Regions from separate parts of the Homo sapiens genome. Here region 1 is linked to region 2. A link means that fine-mapping ties the variant in region 2 to the expression of a gene that starts in the linked region. Tissue or cell type: skeletal muscle. Region 2 holds a variant in brackets; the other region holds the start of a gene. All regions are shown on one strand. Distances are between the middles of the regions.

Region 1 (10,195 bases), 40 kb after region 2:
ATAGATGATAAAAAGTGATAAAAGTTACCTGCTTGATGCAATCACTACGTCCTTACTCATGGCGCATTTAGGAATAAATTATCACATGCCTCACACTGTGCTGGGTACCGAAGATACAAAGATAGAGACAAGGCTATTCCTGTCTTCAGACAGATATTTATATAACTTACAAAACTGCAATATGAATAATAGTTCAAAAGTAACAAAACAAAGTATGAAGAAATGGGGAACGGCTAATTCTGATTCAAAGTCAGAGCAGAGACAGGAGACATGGCCCAAATATTAATGTATCACAGAGAAGGCCTGAGTTAGGCCTTAAAGGAGAGGCAGGGGAATAATGGACCTGAGGTGAGAGAAAGATCAAACAATGTGTGCAAAAGCATAGTACTAGAAAAAAATACACGGGGGGAAATGTCACAACCCATTATGTCTAAGGCATGTGAGTGGAGGGGAAAGTTTGGAGACAGAAACAAACAGAAGGATTTGGAGTGTCAAGTGAAAAAATTTCGTCCTCATTTTATAGGCAAGAGGAACCCAGAGAAAAACATTTTTAAAGAAGAGAATGGGATGACAACTTAAATGCTTCAGAGTGCCAACTAGTACTGTTGGAGGACTCATGGTGGAGTATAAGGGGGAAGCTAAAGAAAGTATTAAACCGGGGAAGTCAACTAGGAGGCTACCAGACTATTCCGTGCAAGAACTGAGGGGTGTGACTCAGGCCACAGGAAGAACTTTACCCCTGGCCCTTTGACTATCAACACACTGTCTCCTAATCTCATGTATCATTCTTCTTAAATCCATCCTATGGGTCACGTCAGTGTCCATCTTATAGTACATATAAATGTCCTAGGGCATTCTGCACAACATGCTCTAAATCACTGCCATTGTGAATGAGATATTTAGGAGAGTATAGGGAAATTCTCGACCTCCCATTTGCTAAGGAGAGAGTAGCAACTGGATTCAAACCGAAGGGCCTAGGACTTAGCTCCACTGTTAACTTTGGACATTTGAGGTCCATGGTTATTACATACTTGGAGATGGTGTAAGGACTGTTAAGCTTGAAAGGGAATTGAGAACAGAAACTTATTTTCTGTGATGGTCATCCATCGATCATGCATAAGAATCATTTCTAATAGTTTAAACTGTGACAATGTTAATAATAACTGTAAATCTTTTACAAAAAAAACTTCCCCATTCCGCTACTTATAATTATTTGTGTGTTTTTTTTGTTTTTTTTTTTGAGTCCCGCTCTGTCGCCCAGACTGGAGTGCAGTGGCACAATCTCTGCTCACTGGAACCTCCGCCTCCTGGGTTCAAGTGATTCTCCTGCCTCAGCCTCCCAAGTAGCTGGGACTACAGGCATGCACCATCATGCGTGGCTAATTTTTGTATTTTTAGTAGAGACAGGGTTTCACCTTGTTGGCCAGGCTGGTCTAGAACTCCAGACTTGAGGTGATCCGCCTGCCTCGGCCTCTCAAAGTTCTGGGATTAAAGGTGTGAGCCACTGTGCCCCGCCTACTTATAATCATTTGAATAAAAGGTTTATATGACTTATTTACAAAATAAAATACTGTTACTATTTTTTTTTTGAGACAGAGTCTCGCTCTGTCGCAGTGGCTTGATCTCGGCTCACTGCAAGCTCTGCCTCCCGGGTTCACGCCATTCTCCTGCCTCAGCCTCCCGAGTAGCTGGGACTACAGGCGCCCGCCACCATGCCCGGCTAATTTTTTGTATTTTTAGTAGAGACAGTGGGGTTTCACCATGTTGGCCAGGATGGTCTCGATCTCCTGACCTCGTGATCCGCCCACCTTGGCCTCCCAAAGTGCTGGGATTACAGGTGAGAGCCACCGCGCCCAGCCCTACTGTTACTATTTTATGTTAAAGATAAGATTAAATAATTTTTAAGGTTTTTTCCATTTCTAGTATCTTATGATTCTGGTACAATAAAAACAAGTTTATCTTGGTTTTTTAAGCTTCTGAATTAAGTTTTCAAACGTTAAAAATGACTGATGTTAGGGTGATGTTTCCATTTAAATGCTACAGAAAATACAGACATAATAAATTTAAACAAGTTTAAAAAACAAAATAAGCATTTTTAGCCACTTTCAGTCTTTTCTAGAAAAGTTCTAAGTGCTCTTATTCATGCCATGTCTTACCCTATATTGAAAAGAAACTGGACTTAATTCCCGGAAACTTTCATCTCCTTCATAAATAGAGCGTAATGCTTCTAGTTCCATCTGAAATAAAGAACTGAATGAGTTTTGTTTAGTGGTATAAATGAATTAGAAATAGAGGGTCTTTACTTTCTCATTCAAGCCCACTCAACTATGTAAAAGCTTGACTAACTTATATAACCTTAGATACTTACCACATAGGTGCATGCAGCAACACATGACAATATTACTACCAATGATACTTACTTTCAAACTCTGTGTCAGGGACTACTAAGCACTGTACAATGTATGATCGCGCTGACTTCTCAAATCAACCCTGTCAAGAGGCTCCTATTATTTTCTCCTTCCTAGGGAAGCAAGGAAGTCTCCCTGTAAAGCCACTCCAGAGCAAGCGCTCTTAGAACTTGGCTAAAGACGAACCTGGGTGCAAAGAGCATTAAACCTAAAGATAAGAACTATGAAAAACAATACTTTCCCATTATTTACATACATTTCTTTTATATGTAATCCTTCCCACAGTGATACAAAGCTCTAAAAAACACCTAAGGGCAAGAAAAAGAACTTAAGAAAAAGGCTGACAAGTATCTACCCAAGATGAGACAGGACTGTCAGAGAAAATGTAACTAGTAATCCTTGCTTGGACATAGTTCTTAGAACATTTTGGTATTACAACTGAGAAGTTCATCACTGTGATCACCGATGAATACCTGAGAAAAGAAGTAAAGCAAGACTGCACTTGGGTACACGTTTAAGTTTTTCAAAAAGATGCATGTCATGAATTCTACAAACTAAAGATGGTGAAAGTGGGCTTGATCTACAGTCAAAATTTTAGAATAGAAATTATTGGCTGGGCGCGGTGGCTCACATCTGTAATCCCAGCACTTTGGGAGGCCGAGGCGGGCGGATCACCTGAGGTCAGGAGTTCGAGGTCAGCCTGGCCAACACGGTGAAACCCCATCTCTACTAAAGACACAAAAATTAGCCAGGTGTGGTGATGGGCGCCTGTAGTCCCAGCTACTCAGGAGGCTGAGGCAAGAGAATCGCTTGAACCCAGGAGGCGGAGGTTGCAGTGAGCCGAGATCGGGCCACTGCAATCCAGCCTGGGCTACAGAGCGAGGCTCCGTCTCAAAAATAGCAACAACAACAGCAAAAAGACATTGTTGAAGAAACAGTGTGTGAGGAACTGGGACATTAAGGAGTAGACCCTAAGACCTAGTAAGTATATGAAAAACAAGATATACCCTTCTTAGATAGGGAAACTTGATTGGCACAATGAAGAAAGGCATAAAACACCGACTATATAGATTTCAGCCAGGCTCCACAGGTTTCTCTTGCTACCTTTACAGAAAAAACAAAAAAAAACAAAATACAGAAATTCAAGCCGGATTCAAGAATAACTAAGATTAGATTGGAACAAAAACCTTACTCAAGATATAGTACTACTCCTTCTGTCCCTAATCCTTTCCCATATTTTAATTTATGACTTGGACAGGTACAAAAATAGGAGGCAAGTTTATTAAATTTGTGGATGACAATTTGTTGGGACAGTGAATAATGCTGATGGCTGAATAAGAATCCAAAAAGTCTTTGAAAAGCAAGCTAATGATGAAATTTAGCAGGGTAAGTAGAACTTGTATCAATACTCAGATACCTAAATGTAGAAGTTGAAGATGAAAGACAAATTGCTTTGTATAAAGCACTTAAAAGATTTCAGTTGACAGTAAATTTAACTAGACAAAACAGCAAGATGCCACAATTTTGAAACAGGACATTTAAAAAATTAAAATCTGTCCACAAACACGTGATTCCAGGATAGTGAAGAGATTAACAAAGAATGGATATATGAAGACAAGCTAAAAGGAACCACTTCCTCAGAGAAGGTCTGAGAAACTGGGCAGGAAACTATCTTCAAAGATCAGAACATCGGTCATCTGAAAGAAGAATGAAATTTTCTTGTTAAACTGGAGATTCCTGGGCCCACCACAGAAATTCTGATTCAGTAGGTCTGGGGTGGAGTGCACGCATCTGTTTTCTAGCAACCATCTAAATGGTTCTAAGGTAGGGGACTATGGTCCAACTCTGAGAAACATTACACTGTATGTTCTTTGCTTTGCAGGGAGAAGAAGCTATTAACGCATTCACTTAGAAATTCACCCGGCAAGAATATTTTAGAAGAGATTCAGATATCAACTAGCTAGCTTGTTGGACTTTGGGTCCTTTAAAGGTTAACTTCCAATCCAGAGATTCTATTACATTTATCATGTAAAAGTAGTAAGTTTCAAGCATTATACTTTAAATTAACAGTGAACTTATCTACCACCCAATAAGACCTGGTTTCTAGTCCCGATTCTACCACGTACTTACTGTGCAGCCCTGCGGCTATCATCGACCCACCTATCAAAGTTAGAAGGTTCCCCTACAGATGGCCCGTAGCACCCACCCCCCAACTCTAATATTATATGATTCAATGTCAAAATGGCATCTCACAAGGAAATATTTGAGCATAAACCATAAATTCAGGTGGTACATGAATGCTCAAAACAGACAGATGGGTAAAAGATTTCCCCAAACAATATGGACAGAAACTCAGATGCACCACCAGTGTCATTTTCTTCCATGAGAAATGTAACTAACTCAATTAGCCCTCTACTAGCCAAGAGATTTAAAGATGACCAGACTAAAATTTAAAGGTGATCAGCCTAACTCAGTAAACAGGCACTGAACACATGGGATTCAAGGAGAGCCAAGAGCACTGGATCGTGCACCAAGGACGCTCATCCCTGTTATTAAGTAACCAGGGGAGACTCCCGGATTTGCAAAAATGAAAAATGAGGGGGGAAGAGTGGCAGAGGCGGACTCCTGGCCATTCACGCGCGCTTGGGTGGGACGCCGGTGAACTCGGGGCACCCCGGCCGGCTCCGAGGGCACAGGGCACGTGCCGGGCAGGCTGTCCGGGCACCAGGTCTCACGGGGGCCCGGGGCTGCGCGCCGCGCCCGCGCTGGGAGAGGGCCCTGAGCCGGGGGGCTCACCTCCTGGTCCTCGTTGGCACTCATCGCGCCGGTCGCGGGGCGCCTCCTGAGCGGACGGCGTTCGCAACAACGAAGAGAAAGCGAAGGCAGCGGCCCAGAGGCCGGGCGTCCCCCTTTCGCGCCTCGGCTGTGGGGGCGGCACAGTCTTGGCACTGGCAGACGCCAACTGCGCGCGCCCCGAGCCTCGGCAGCGCCCAGCCGCCGGCAGTGGGCTGTGGGCTACGAGCCGGAGCCGCGGCTGGTGGGGCCTGGGAAGTGCAGCGTCTCCCTGACGCTTGGAGGAGCGGCGTAAAGTTCCGGGACAGCGATTGGTGTAGAGCGCGGTCACTCAGGCCCAGAAAGTGCTTCCTGTGCCGGGGGAGGTGGGTACAGGGAAGTCTCGCCTGTTGGAACTGGCTGTGGGGCTGCGGCGGTGGGGACGGGCCACGGCGTTCTGTGACATCCCCCCGCCTCCCCTCGTCTTCTCCCGGCTGGCGGCGACCGGCCTCAGCTGCAGCGGGCCCGGGGCGTGGGGCCTGGGTGAGTCCGGGCCCGGAGACCCGCGGGGCCAGGCGGGACCGCCGAGGAAGAGAGCTAGCTCTTAACAATGCTGGTTTGGGGGCCTGCGTTTTGCAATCCCATCGACGGGTGCAATCCTGGCACTTCTCTTTTAGACCCGAGGAAAGACGCACCCGTTTCTAGGGCCTCCCAGGTTTAAGACGGGGGAATAAGAGGAGGAAGATATCTGCCTTTAGGGACTGCAAGGTTATTTCTCTACCTTTCCTCACTGGAGCTACCAGAACAGATACTGGGACCATGGGGACGGTGTTTCTCCTACGTTGGATTGTTGCTTCTCATCTTTAACATCGAAACATCATTTCGTCCCCACACTGTCGTTCCTCTTTTGTTCGTTTTGTAGTTGAACATCTCTGAATCCCATTCTTAGCAGCCTTGTGTCCTAACACCCTGAACTTCCAGTTAGTTAAAAGAAAAAAAAAGTAACCACATTAGGTTTTGGGGTTTTTTTAGTTGCCAATTTGATTGGGTCACCTTTCTTATCTTTCACGCTAGTTTCCAGTTTACTTCCCTTGCATTACTTGATCTCCCATCCATTATTCACCTTCTATAGCTGCGCCTCCTTTCGTGTATAGTTTCGTTGGTTGCTCCATTGGATATCTGAAAATTTCTCCTTCCAGCCTGTCATTGAAATCCATTCGATCTGCGCCTGTGCGTTATCGGGGTTCTCATTCAAATTCCTTTGCTGCAGAATAAGCACGACCATTTCAGGTGACATAGGAGAATGTGGCAAGACTTTCTGATACAATTTTCGTGCAGCAATTTTGGGACACATTTCCCATAATTTAGATCTCTGCTGTCCAGTTCTGTAGCCAGTAGCTACATCAGGCATTTGAAATAGGCTAGTCTGAATTGAGATGTGCTGTGAGTGTGAAATACACACCAGATTTTGAAGACTCAGTACAAAAAAAGGTAAAATATGTCATTAATAACTTTTATATTATTGTCAGTATGATAATATTTTGGACATACTGTACTGCGTTAAATTGAATATTAAAATGAATTCCATCCACGTTTTACTTTTTAATATGACTGCTAGAAATTTTTAATTTATTTATGTGACTTGTATTTCTATTGGATGACAGTCATTTTTAGTTCCTCTTATTTCAACTCCATATTTAAAGACCACAGCTATGTCTTTTGGGCCTCTGGAGTTATTACAGGAAATGGCCTCTAGTCTAGACTCGTTCATATTAAGCAAAGGGGCCCGTATTGTATTTTGGTCACTTGTTTTTTGTTGTTGTTGTTGAGACGGAGTCTTGCTCTGTTGCCCAGGCTGGAGTGCAGTGGTGCGATCTCGGCTCACTGAAATCTCCGCCTCCCGGGTTCAAGCCATTCTCCTGCCTCAGCCTCCCGAGTAGCTGGGACTATAGGCACGCATCACCATGCCCGGCTAATTTTTGTATTTTTAGTAGAGACGGGGTTTCACCCTATTGGCCAGGCTGGTTTTGAACCGTTGACCTCGTGAATCGCCCGCCTTGGCCTCCCAAAGTGCTGGGATTACAGGCGTGAGCCGCTGTACCCAGCCTGGTCACCCCTTTTTAATTTTCATTCCTACATTACCCAGAACTAGACTGTTTCTTTCTCTGAACATGCAATCCTTTGCCCTCATAACTTAATCCTGTCCTAAAAATATTTAAACAATTCTAAAACAATCTGTTGTAGACATTTCTGGCAAGCTTTGCAAATCATTTATTGAATACCTGTTGTTCTTTCAGTATGTAAACATGAGAAGACTAATAGTCTTTCCTAAATTAACCTTTCAGTTGAAAATATTCCATGTTTTGGGGATTAGGTATTAGCCTAAGTGTGCCTCACTTTTCACAAAGATTGTGTTAGACTTCTCCATAATATACTGGTATACTGGTGTAGATTACCTTTTTTTTTTTTTTTTTTTTTTTTTGAGACGGAGTCTCCTCGCTCTGTCGCCCAGGCTGGAGTGCAGTGGCGCGATCTCCGCTCACTGCAAGCTCCGCCTCCCGGGTTCACGCCATTCTCCTGCCTCAGCCTCCCGAGTAGCTGGGACTACAGGCGCCCACCACCATACTCGGCTAATTTTTTGTGTTTTTAGTAGAGACGGGGTTTCACCATGTTAGCCAGGATGGTCTCGATCTCCTGACCTTGTGATCCGCCCGCCTCGGCCTCCCAAAGTGCTGGGATTACAGGCGTGAGCCACCGCGCCCGGCCAGATTACCTTTTAAAAGAGCCTCATGACACATTCTTTTTCAAATAAGATTATATTTAAAATGTAGTGATAATTTTGTTTGGAATAACTTTTTTTTTTTTTTTTTTTTTTGTGGCACAATCTTGCTCTGTCACCCAGGCTGGAGTGCAGTGGCACAATCATAGTTCACTGTAACTTTAAACACCTAGACTCAAGTGATCCTCCCATCTCAGCCTCCCAAGTGGCTGGGACTACAAGTGAGCACCACCATGCCCGGCTATTTTCTTTTTTATTTCTTTTAGAGACAGGATCTCACTATGTTTCCCAGGCCAGTCTTGAACTCCTGGCCTCAACAATCCTCTGGCCTTGTCCTCCAAAAGTGCTGGGATTATAGGCATGAGCCACTTGTGCCTTACCTGAATTCTCTGTAATATGCTGGTATAGATTATCTTTTAAAAGAACCTCATTTGGGAGGCCAAGGCTGGCAATCGCCTGAGGTCACGAGATCAAGACCATCCTGGCCAACATGGTGAAACCCTGTCCACTAAAATACAAAAAATTAGCTGGGTGTGGTGGTGCATGCCTGTAGTCCCAGCTACTAGGGAGGCTGAGGCAGGGGAATCACTTGAACCCGGGAGGTGGAGGTTGTAGTGAGCTGATATTGGGCCAGTGCACTCCAGCCTGGTGACAGAGTGATACTCCGTCTCAAAAAAAAAAAAAAAAAAGAACCTCATGTTGTTACATCCTTTTGCAAGTAAGATTATATTAAAAATATAATGACAGTCTTGTTCGGGATAAACATAGTTTTATATACTTATAAAGTCAGGGCATACGTTAGATTTATTATGGACTGATTCTTAGCTAAAGGACGCAGTGGAAACATCCTCCGAGAGGTTTCCATTCATTGTTAGTTTTTCCCTTACAGATTTTTCTTTAAAGAGTAAATTTTATATTGTGGGAAATGAGACAACATAGCTACTATTTAGATAATTACATAAATTAAAGGCTATTTTAATAATATCCTAGGTATTCAGAAATTCAATATTAGCAATTACAGAGAAATTAGGGGAAGTTTATTATATGTAAGTCAACTGTTTTTCTTTTATATTTTTCTTTCAATATATTTTTCTTTTATAGTTGAAATAGATCATGTAGATCTATTTTAATTTTATCACCTTCTTGCTTTCTTGGTCTACTAATTTCAAAGTTCTGTGTGCATTTTGAGACATTACTGAAAATGCCGATTTGTCTTAAAGTTGACTTCATTTTTAACATGAAAGATTTTTTCTTAAATGTCATATAGTTATTACATTTTAATAGATCTAATTCAGGAATTAAAGTTTTCCCTTTTTCTCTCTTCTGTTTGTTTGACAGTTTGCAGATACTCAAAGCCTTTTGCCTTTTTGTAATGATTATTTTATTTATTTTATTTTTTTTGAGACAGAGTCTCACTCTGTCACCCAGATTGGAGTGGAGTGCCGTGATCTTGGCTCACTGGAGCCTCCGCCTCCTGGGTTCAAGTGATTCTCCTGCCTCAGCCTCCAAGTAGTTGGGGTTACAGGTGTGTGCCACCATGTCCAGCTAATTTTTTGTTTTTTGTTTTTGAGACAGAGTCTCCCTCTGTCATCCAGGCTAGAGTGCAGTGGCGCCATCTTGGCTCACTGCAACCTCCACCTCCCGGGTTCACGCCATTCTCCTGCCTCAGCCTCCTGAGTAGCTGGGACTACAGGCGCCCACCACCACGCCCGGCTAATTTTTTGGATATTTAGTAGAGACAGGGTTTCACCGTGTTAGCCAGGATGGTCTCGATCTCCTGACCTCGTGATCTGCCCACCTAGGCCTCCCAAAGTGCTGGGATTACAGGCGTGAGTCACCACGACCAACCAATTTTTTGTATTTTTAGTAGAGACAAGGTTTCACTGTGTTGGCTAGGCTGGTCTTTAACTCCTGGCCTCCAGTGATCCACCTGCTTCGGCCTCCCAAAGTGTTGGGATTGTATGCGTGAGCCACCATGCCTGGCCTTGTAATGATTATTTTTTTGTAATGATTTTTAAATAGAGATTCATATATTGGAAATGAATATGAGTTGTTTTTTTTTTTTTTTTTTTGAGACAGAGTTTTGCTCTTGTTGCCCAGGCTGGAGAAATGAATATGAGTTTTTAAAAATTAATTATGAATGTATTAACATTTGTATTTCAGGTTTTTTGTGACATCGTAAACATGAGCCCCACACAGTGGGACTTCCCTGTGGAATTATGTTGCCGGCCTATGG
Region 2 (10,647 bases):
GAGGGTGACACAGTCAGTGCTTGTCTTTACCTCCCTCCCTAGCTCCCAAGATCTAATGAAAAGGATACACAACATATGTTCTTAAGAGAATCAATCCATTCTCCATCACAGAGCTGGGAAAGAAGAAAGGCTGTCACCATTAAAGCAGAATTTGGTGGGGGTGGTGGTACAGATTTCTGGAATATTGAAAACAAATGGCCTCAATTTATGAAGAAACTAAGGCAGAGAGTTCCACCACTAAACACAGGCATTGTCAGAGGCGTGCCATTCTCCCAAACAGAGCCCCAGAGAAACTCCAAGCTCAGGGTCAACAGAAATGAACACAGACCTTAGTTAAAAGGCTGACTGCCGATTGTCATGTCTCGCTGCCACGTTGCATATAAAAATAGGAAAACATAAACATCAAGTAGAGATGTGTGTAAAGGATACTAATAGTCAGAGAAACACACATGGCCCTTATGCACATAAAAAGATGCTCAAATTCTCTAGTAGTCTAGTAGATTAGTGCAAAAAGAATGATGACAACATACCATATTTTACTCATTTGAAAGCTGATACTATCCTGTTTCAGTAAATGTATGGGTGAATGGTCTCTGCCTGTTGGTAGGAATCTAAAGGTATAGTTGTTTCTGTTTTTTTTTTTTTCCTTAGTTGCTCCAGAGCTAACTCCTCGGCAGTGCACCCAGAGTGAGTCTAAAAGTACAGTCTTCTGGGATGACAATTTGTCACCATCTAACAAAATGTCCCATGTCTTCGTACAGCAATTGTTCTTTGACTTAACAGAAATATTGACACATGCAGAAGAATACAAGTGCAGGAATATACCACATAACATGGTTTGCAATGGCTAATAATTAGAAACAATTTATAGAGAAATGGATAAATTACAGTTTATTTATAGTAAGGAAAACTATGTTTAAAAGATCTGACAGGGAAAGACCCTTAAGATATATTGTTTAAAAAAATAAGCAATGTGCACCCGGGATAATCCTAATGAACCCAAAGTAATCACAAGTGTACTTACAAGAAGGAGGCAGTGGAGTTAGGGTCAGAGAGAAGATGTAAGGATGGGCACAGAGGTCAGAGAGAGGCGAAGATGCTTTGAAGATTGAGGAAGGGGCCTTGAGTAAAGAAATGCAAAAGCCAGGAAAGGCAAGGAGACAAAATCTTCCCTGGAGCCTATACCTCTTTTGTTGTTGTTGATTTTCAAACAATTACGAACATACTGAAATTTTCAAGAATAGTAGGACTTTTTTTCCCTGAACCATGTGAGAGTAATGCTGACACAAAGCCCCATCATTCTGAATTCTTTAGTTTGTAATTCCTACAAACAAGGAGATTCTCCTACACAAGCAAACATACCACCAGCAAAATCAGGAAATTAACAATGAAATCTTCCTACCACCTACTCTACAGATTCCACCCCAGTTTCTCCAATTGCACCAGTCGTATCCTTTATAGTCAAAGGATCCAGGACAGGGTCTCCCGCTGCTTTCACTGGTCATGTCTCTACTCACTTTCAATCTAGAGGCTGTCTTCTCGCTGCCTTCTATCAGGTGGCAAATGATTCTGATTTGTCCGTTTCTGCTGAGATCAACTTGATTAAGGTGGTATTTGTCAGATTTCTCCACTGTGCATGACTAATGTTTTGGAATCAGTAAGGAAACGTGGGACTATTTAAATATCCCATTTCTTTCTTTGTTTCTTCTTTCTTTTCTTTCCTTTCCCTCCCTCCCCCTCTCTCTCTCTTTCTCTCTCTCTCTCTCTCTTTCTCTCTCTCTCTCTTTCTTTCTGATAGTCTTACTCACTTGCCCAGGCTGGAGTACAGTGGCGTGATCTCAGTTCACTGCAACCTCCACCTTCCAGGTTCAAGCAATCTTCCTTCCTCAGCCTCCCGAGTAGCTGGGATTACAGGTGCCCGCCACCACGCCCGGCTAATTTTTGTATTTTTAGTAGAGACTGGGTTTCGTCATGTTGGCCAGGCTGGTCTGGAACTCCTGACCTCAGGTGAACCGCCCACCTCGGCCTCCCAAAGTGCTAGGATGACAGGCGTGAACCACCGTGCCCAGCCTCAATATTCCATTTCTTATCAAACATTGACTCACTGATTTTAGCTTCCATTGATATTTTTGGATGATTTAATTATTGCCTTATTAATGACCAAACAGTGATTTTTCTAACTGCATCATTTTTTTCTCCATTTACTTGTTGCCACTTGCATTAGTGTCCTATTGTGTGTCATACTGTATTAGTGCTGCTATAACAAACTACCATAACCTTAGCGGGTTAAAACAACTTAAATGTATTATTTTGTAACTCTGGAGGCCAGACGTTCCCCATCGGTGTCACTAGGTTAAAATCAAGGCACTGGCAGGCCTGTGTTCCTCTTAAAGGCACCAGGGAAGAAGCCGTTCCCTTGCCTTCTAGCTTCTGGAGGACGCCTGCATTCCTGGGCTATGGCCCCCTCCTCTATCTTCAAGCCATCAGCATAGCACCTTCCCTCCTCTCTGACCTCTGCTTTCATCCGTTTATCCTCTCTCTGATTCTGCTCCTCATGGCTGCTTTGTGTAAGCGCCCTTGTGACCACATTGGGGACCTCCCCCCCATAATCCAGGATTATACACACTCATCTGCATTTAAATCTACATATTATACATAATATAGACACATATTTGTATAATATATTATATCTTTATTTATCTATATAATTTTTTTGAGACATGGTGTCATTCTGTCACCCAGGCTGGAATGCAGTGGCACGATCTTGGCTTACTGCAGCCTCAACCTCCTGGGCTCAAGCGATCCTCCCACCTTAGCCTCCCAAGTAGCTGGAACTACAGGTGTGCACCACCACACCTGGCTAATTCTTAATTTTTTTGTAAAGAAGGGACCTCACTGTGTTGCCCAGGCTGGTCTCAAACTCCTGGCCTTAAGTGATCCTCCGACCTTGGCCTCCCAAAATGTTGGGATTAAAGGCAGGTGTGAGCCACTGCACCCGACCCTTATCTATATATTCAAAACCATGAGTTTGCACCAATGCCTTTAATTCCAATCCAACACCATAAGGTTCAGATTAGTTGTCTTATCATTCACCCTGCAGCTCATTTCCAACAATGAAAAGCCTGACTCCCACCACTTTCAATATGTTTCACTATTGGACTAATCCCTCTTGTGTGTGTTCAGTCTCCCCTCCTGGCCAGACCCCTCCACTCTCCTCACACTACGCGGCCTGCCAGGTGAAAACAATACAGGGACTGCCACTAAGCCCTACTTTTTTTCTTTTATTTTTCTTTCTTTTTTTCCCCTCCCTCCTTCCTCTTTCTTTTCCCTCCCTTCCTCCCTCCCTCCTTTCCTTCCTTTCTTTTCTTTCTCTTTCTTTTTGTTCCTTCCTTCTTCTCTTTTTCTTTCTTTTCCTTCCTTCCTTCCTCTCTCTCTTTCTGTCTCCTTCCTTCCTTCCCTTCCTTCCCTCCCCTTCCCTCCCCTTCCTTCCTTCCTTTCTTCTTTCTTTCTTTCCTTCCTCTTTCTTTTTTTTCAAGGTCAGTCTGGCTCTGTCACCCAGGCTGGAGTACAGAGTGGCCTGATCTTGGCTCAAAGCAGCCTTGACCACCCTAGGCTCAAGCTATCCTCCTGCCTCAGCCTCCTGAGCAGCTGGGACCACAGGGCTGCACTACCACACCGGGATAATTTTTGTGTCTTTTGTAGAGACGGGGTTTCACCATGTTGCCTAGGTTGGTCTCGAACTCCTGAGCTCAAATGATCCACTCACCTTGGCCTCCCAAAGTGCTGGGATTACAGGCATGAGCCACTGGGCCCAGCCTGTTTTTTTCTTAAATACTACTACTTAGAACTAAATGTGAAATCATCCAAATATCATATTATCCTAAATTTGATTAAGATAATTACTGTTGGCTGGAAAAGGTAGTATTACATATGGCTTAATTCCTTTACTGTATAGTCCACAGAGATTGAGACTTTAATCTTCACATTGAGTGGAAAATAAGAGAGAATATGTTCAGATGACAGTAAAATAAAGTCAAATTAGACTTTCAGACAAAATTACATTAAATATATTTTGACATTGAAACAAGTGACCAAGTGCAGTTGAGGAATTTCTTTGACTCATGACATTTACAGTAAGAGTAAATATAGAGGCCGGGCACAGTGGCTCACGCCTGTAATCCCAGCACTTTGGGAGGCAGAGGTGGTTAGATCACAAGATCAGGAGATCCAGACCATCCTGACTAACACGGTGAAACCCCGTCTCTACTAAAAAATACAAAAAATTAGCCCGGCGTGGTGGCGGGCGCCTGTAGTCCCACCTACTCGGGAGGCTGAGGCAGGAGAATCACTTGAACCCGGGAGGCGGAGGTTCCGGTGAGCCGAGATCGCACCACTGCACACCAGCCTGGTGACACAGCGAGGCTCCATCTCAAAAAAAAAAAAAGAAAAAAAAGAAAAAGAAAAACTCAGCTGTTAAACATTTCTTGCTCAAATAACTTCTGTAAAATGCTTAATAGAATAAATAATCGTATCAGTCAGGGTTCTCTGGAGAAACAGAACCAATAAGAGATATATATGTATGTGTGTATGTATACATACACATACAAAGAGACAGCGAGAGAGATTTTAAAGAATTGCTCAAGTAATTGAGGAGGCCGGCAAGTCTGAAATCTCTAGGACAGGCCCACAGGTTGGAAATTCAGGCAGGAGTTGATGTTACCGTCTCGAGTCCGAAATCTGCAAAGCAGGCCAAGCCCTCCGGAAACTCACTCAGAGTTTCTGTGCTGCAGGCTCGAGGCAGAATTCCTTTTTTCTCGGGAAAGGCTCAGTCTCCGCTCTGAAAGCCTTCAGCTGATTGCATGAAGCTCACCCACATTCAAGAGGATAATCTACTTTACTCAGAGTCAGCTGATTGTACGTATCAATCACATCTACACAATACCTTCACAGCAACATCCAAGTTAGTGTTTAACCAAGCAGCTGGGCCCCACAGCCAAGCCAAGTTGAGACATAATGAACCATCACTGTCTCTGTAACTATCTGTTTTCAAAGAAACATTGATTTTCTTTCGCAATCACTTCCAGAAGTTTGACTTAGTATTTCCTACACACTGTTTAACTAACATTGAATTAACTCTTAGTTCCTAATAAAGGTTTGCTAACACATACATACAAATCTTATTAGAAAATTGATTTGCATGTGTTAGAAAACATATTTATTGCATTATTTTGGAACAGTTTTAGTTTTTGCATTATCTCTTCTGTGGTCATATATTGGATTTTCTTTGATGCTTTTCACTGATGACAGCTATTTGGGGGAAAACATAGATGATTTTTACAAAACGCGTCACTGAAAGGGTTTGGGCAGACAACAGTGCGTCTTTTGGTGCAGGCTGGCACTCACACGCAGAGATGCCGCAAGATCAGTCTCCACCCCTCAGACCTCTGCGGAGGGACGCTTGGGTCCGGCTAGTTGGACTAAGACAGCCCCGGACTGCAAGGAAAGGCCTCAAGGCCCCGCCCCCACTCATTTGGGTTCTCTTTTTAAAGGGCAAACCCGAGTGGCCTTGCCAGGGGGAACAAAATGTCTGCTTGGGCATCGGGCAGGCTGGGCTTAGGTGACAGCTGTTCAGGCAGTTCGCTGTCTGGAGAGCCTGTTGCCAGCACCTGTTGACCTTGTGAGAAGTTCCATTTGGGCACAGCCCCTCCTGCAGGGGGAG[G/T]GGGGAGGTTCTGGTCCCATTTAGATTGTTGCCAGGCAACCCATATCTTCAGGGTCAGACTGTCCTGTTTGTCTTTCCACAAAGTATACAGACAACCATAAACAAAGCATAGCTTAAGTAACATTTAGATTGTTGAGGGAACATAAAATAGGGCTTGTTTTTTCCGTCCCCCTCCCTCATCATTGCCCAAAGATGTTACTGATTTGAAATAATTTTTAGATGATCTGCGTGCAAGAAAAAACACAGGGACGGCCAGGCGCGGTGGCTCACGCCTGTAATCCCAGCGCTTTTGGAGGCGGAGGCGGGCGGATCACCTGAAGTCAGGAGTTCAAGACCGGCCTGGCCAACACGGTGAAACGCCGTCTCTACTATAAAATACAAAAATTAGCTGGGCATGGTGGCACGTGCCTGTAGTCCCAGCTACTTGGGAGGCTGAGGCAGGAGAATTTGCTTGAACCTGGGAGGCGGAGGTTGCAGTGAGCCGAGATGGCGCCACTATACTCCAGCCTGGGCAACAGAGTGAGACTCCGTCTCAAAAAAAAAAAAAAAAAAAAAAAACACAACAGGGACAAATATCCCATCAGCTAACGCTGTGATGATGTTGTCACAAATTACGAGTGGCCTCAATGGAGTGTGGTACTTTTACAATTTACTGTTTAAATAATGCAATAAATACAAACTACTTAAGTGGTGTATGTTCAATAATGCCACAGAACTCTCTAACTGTTTAATCATTTAGGGCTACATTTCATTATTTCATCTTTATTATATTTCAATCCATCCTCTATCAACACCATAGCAAACCTTCCCTCTAGACCTGTGTATCCAATAAGGCAGCCACTAGCCACATGTGGTTATGTAAATGAAAATTACAATTTACTAGTTTAAATGAACAGTTAGTTCTTCCGTCACCCTAGCCACATTTCAAGTGGTCAATAGCCACATGTGGCTAGTGGCTACTTTATCAGGGAACACAGCTAAAGGACACTTCCATCATTGCAAAAAGTTACATTGGACAGTGTTGCTGACCTTTGGCAGGAAACAAAGTCTTGAATTGTCTGGTGTCCAGGTTTCATAAAAAGCCTGTTTACACCAGAAATGGGCAGAAAAAAGAAAAGAAAAAGCCTGCTTAGGAGAAGCAATATTTACGGAGGATTGGTGGAAGGATGCCCATCTCTATAATTTATTTGAGTTTTAGCTTGGAATCAAGCAAGCCCATAGCAGTGTTTCTGGATCACAGAGTCTTGGCACTCCAGAAAACTGTTTTCATGGAGCCACATTTTAGGATTTTGTCCAATAACTCATTAAGAAACAACCTTGTGAGTATTGCTGTGCAGAAAGTAAAGAATTAAGCATCATGGGGACCTGTCAAAGGACAGATGTGCTAGCCTGATGTGGCATTTACTGGACAAATCTGAGAGAAATTGAGCAGCAAAATAAGTAATGATAAATGGATTACAGAATTAACCCAGCATGAAAATAGTCTGCACTGGCCGGGCGAGGTGGCTCACGTCTGTAATCCCAGCACTTTGGGAGGCTGAGGTGGGTGGATCACTTGAGGTCAGGAGTTCGAGACCAGCCTGACTAACATAGTGAAACACTGTTTCTACTAAAAATACAAAAAATTAGCCAGGCGTGGTGGCACATGCCTGTAATCCTAGCTTCTTGGGAGGCTGAGGCAGGAGAATCACTTGAACCCAGGAGGCAGAGGTTGCAGTGAGCTGAGATCGCGCCATTGCACTCCAGCTTGGGCAACAAGAGCGAGACTGTCTCAAAAAAAAAAAAAAAAAAAAAAAGAAATAGTCTGTACTGATGTCAATTAATATGTGGAGGAGAATGGGAAGTACCATGGAATGCCAACAAATGAATGCAGAGGGAATAATGGAATTCGAACATCGAACATCACCACTTGTCTATTGTTGTAGACATAATTGTTTTATGGAAGAGTCAGCAAAGAAACTAGCAGGTTGGATAGGAGACAAGAGATTTTTATGACACCAAAGTGTCTCCTTATAAGTATTTATTAATTATAAAGATAAAAAATAGTAACTTTACAGTGGAGAAACGGCAGACGCTACCTTAACCAAGCATTCAAAGGTAACATCACCAGTAATGGGAAAAGTAGATATCTTGTGCCCCCTGATGGGATACACTGAGGACTCACTACTACTTCTGAGATGTCCCTGCCGAAAATACTGAATCTGGATCTAATGAGGAAGAACAGGCAACCCCAGACTCAGAAACACTCTACAAAAGCATCTGGCCTGTGCTGTCCAAAATGTCAAGGGCTTCCAAGACAAAGAAAGATTTAGGAAGTGTTCCAGATTAAAGACCAAAGAGACATGATGACAGGTACAAATTTGAGCCTAGATAAGATCACTGAGCAGAAAAAAGAAACCAAAAAACTCTTTTTTTCTTTTGCCATAAAGGTATTTAAGAAAAATGATAACATCTGAAAAGTCTTGTATATTAGGAAATACTACTGTATTCATGTTAACTTCCTGATTTTGGTCATTGCACTGTGGTTACAGAAAATAACATTCTTGTTTTTAGGAAGTATGCACTGTAGTGTTCAGGAGTAAAGGGGCATAGTGTCTCCAGCTATCTCTCAGATGGTTCAGAAATATGTAATTCCCTCTTACAGTCCAAGATCTCCAGCGGATGTCTGGAACCAATCCATGCGTATACTATATTTTTCCTGTATGGGAACACCTGTGGTAAAAGTCAGTTTAGAAACATGGCACAGTAAGAGATTAGCAACAATAGTTAATAAAAAGAACAATTATAACAATATACTGTCATAAAAGTTATGCGAATGTGGTCTCTCACTCTCTCTCAAAATATTGTCAAACCCCAGTTGACGCAGGCAACTGAATCCACAGAAAGTAAAATTGCCGATAAGGGGGGATTACTGTATATATGTACGTGTATAGAGAGAGATAGAGAGAGAAATACATTGGGAGAGAGGCAGAAAAGGAGAACAGTAAAGTAAATATATGGGAGGCTGGGCACGGTGGCTCACACCTGTAATCCCAGCACTTTGGGAGGCTGAGGCAGGCAGATCACCTAAGGTCAAGAATTCAAGACCAGCCTGGCCAACATGGTGAAACTCCATCTCTACTAAATATACAAAAATTAGCCAGATGTGGTGGCATGTGCCTGTAATCCCAGCTACTCTGGAGGCTGAGGCAGGAGAATCGCTGGAACCCGGGAGGCAGAGGTTGCAGGTGAGCCAAGATTGAGCCACTGCACTCCAGTCTGGGCAACGAGAGTGAAACTCCATTTCAGAAAAATAAAAAAAAGTGAATATATGGGAAAATACAACAAATACAACATTGAGGAATCTAGATGAAGAGTATTAGCAACCTCTTTGTACATTTTTTGCAATTGTTTGTGGTCTGAAATTACTTCAAAAATGAAATGAATAGAAGAAATAATCTTATGAAATCCATTACTATACTTGTGGGAGGCTTAAACCTCTGCATCCCAATTGTGAAACTTCATATGAGCAAATTCTTACAATTAAAACCTATAAAAGCTTTAATTTTTTCCAAAGGTTGTAGAGTTTCTCTTTTTGCCTGTTTAAAGTATGAAACTGTTTCCCTTTTATCCTTGACATTCAGAAAGCTCAGGGCTAAGTAGTATCTGTAGTTTCTAGCTAACTATAGTGACCATGGAGGACCCTATAGAAAACACTCTGTGGGCCGGGCACAGTGGCTCATGCCTGTAATCCCAGCACTTTGGGAGGCCGAGGTGGGTGGATCACCCGAGGTCAGGAGTTCAAGACCAGCCTGGCCAACATGGTGAAACCCTGTTTCTACTGAAAATACAAAATACTGTACATAAAACCCCACCAGGTGGCGACTCATGCTCCTGTCCCCACTTTACAGACGGACAAACTGAAGCACAGAGAAGTTAGGGAGCACACAAGCTCATCAGCTTAGAAAGCCGGAGAGCCAAGGGTGGAACCCACGCAGCCAGCACTGTTAACAAACTGGAACTGTGCGGCCATTCAAAGGTGAGAATTACAGAGGGAGGGAGCTCACTTCATGCTTGCAAGAAGATCTCAGCACAGAGTTGACCGAGGCAACAGTTAAACAGTCTTGAAAATAAATACGCGTCCACATTATATTGTTACAATTTTTTTTTTCTGAGGCAGCATCTTGCTCTGTTGCCCAGGCTCTAGTGTAGTAGTGTGATCTGGGCTCACTGTAGCCTCGACTTCCTCAGGCTCTAGTGATCCTCCCACCTCAGCCTCCTGGGTAGCTGAGATTACAGGCGCCTGCCACCACGCCCACTAAATTTTGTATTTTTAGTAGTAGTTTCGCCATGTTGGCCAGGCTGGTCTCGAACTCCTGGGCTCAAGCCATCCACCCACCTCAGCCTCCCAAAGTGCTGGGATTACAGATGTGCACCACCACCACGCCCGGCCTATTGCAACAATTTTAAAATTAGCATGTGGAAATATAAAATAAAATAATAATTTTTTATTTTATATTTTTCCTGAAATTTTTGTATAAATAATTGAAACGCATTACATTTATTTTTTGGAGTTTATTTATTTTTACAGAGTCTCACTGTCACCCATGCTGGAGTACAGTGGTGCGATCACAGCTCACTGCAACCTCTACCTCCCAGGTTCCAGTGATTCTCCTGCCTCAGCCTCCTGAGTAACTGGGATTACAGGTACACATCACCACGCCCATGTAATTTTTGTATTTTTAGTAGAGATGGGGTTTCACCATGTCGGCCAGGCTGGTCTCCAACTCCACCGTGCCCAGTCTTCCATATATTTACTTTACTGTTCTCCTTCTCTGTCTCTCTCCTAATGTATTTCTCTCTATATATACATGTACATATATATAGTAATCCCCCCTTATCGGCGATTTCACTTTCTGTGGATTTAGTTACCTGCATCCACCCACCTC

Direction of the effects. Alleles are on the strand shown, and positions count from the first base shown. SD is a standard deviation of normalised expression in the study named.
In carriers of allele G in region 2, the expression in skeletal muscle of the gene that starts at base 5,461 in region 1 tends to be higher than with T alone (small effect, 0.36 SD a copy in GTEx).

What was found. PIP is the estimated chance that this variant, and not a neighbour inherited with it, causes the effect.
Region 1: RWDD4 starts here. The variant in region 2 is fine-mapped to the expression of RWDD4 in skeletal muscle (GTEx, PIP above 0.99).

Annotation. Positions count from the first base shown.
Region 1 is chr4:183,653,725-183,663,919 of GRCh38, forward strand. RWDD4 (RWD domain containing 4) reads right to left here and starts at 5,461. Exons shown (of 8, transcript NM_152682.4): 1 at 5,205-5,461; 2 at 2,157-2,237. The coding sequence starts at 5,228. It overlaps TRAPPC11 (trafficking protein particle complex subunit 11), which reads left to right and starts at 5,569. Exons shown (of 30, transcript NM_021942.6): 1 at 5,569-5,723; 2 at 10,123-10,195. The coding sequence starts at 10,144. RefSeq lists enhancers at 4,668-5,456, 5,371-5,500, 5,457-6,244 and silencers at 4,976-5,196, 5,011-5,220, 5,591-5,880.
Region 2 is chr4:183,613,878-183,624,524 of GRCh38, forward strand. No RefSeq gene overlaps it. Among named protein-coding and RNA genes, the nearest start is that of RWDD4, 40 kb to the right of the region's middle. The variant G/T (reference allele first, on the strand shown) is at 5,720.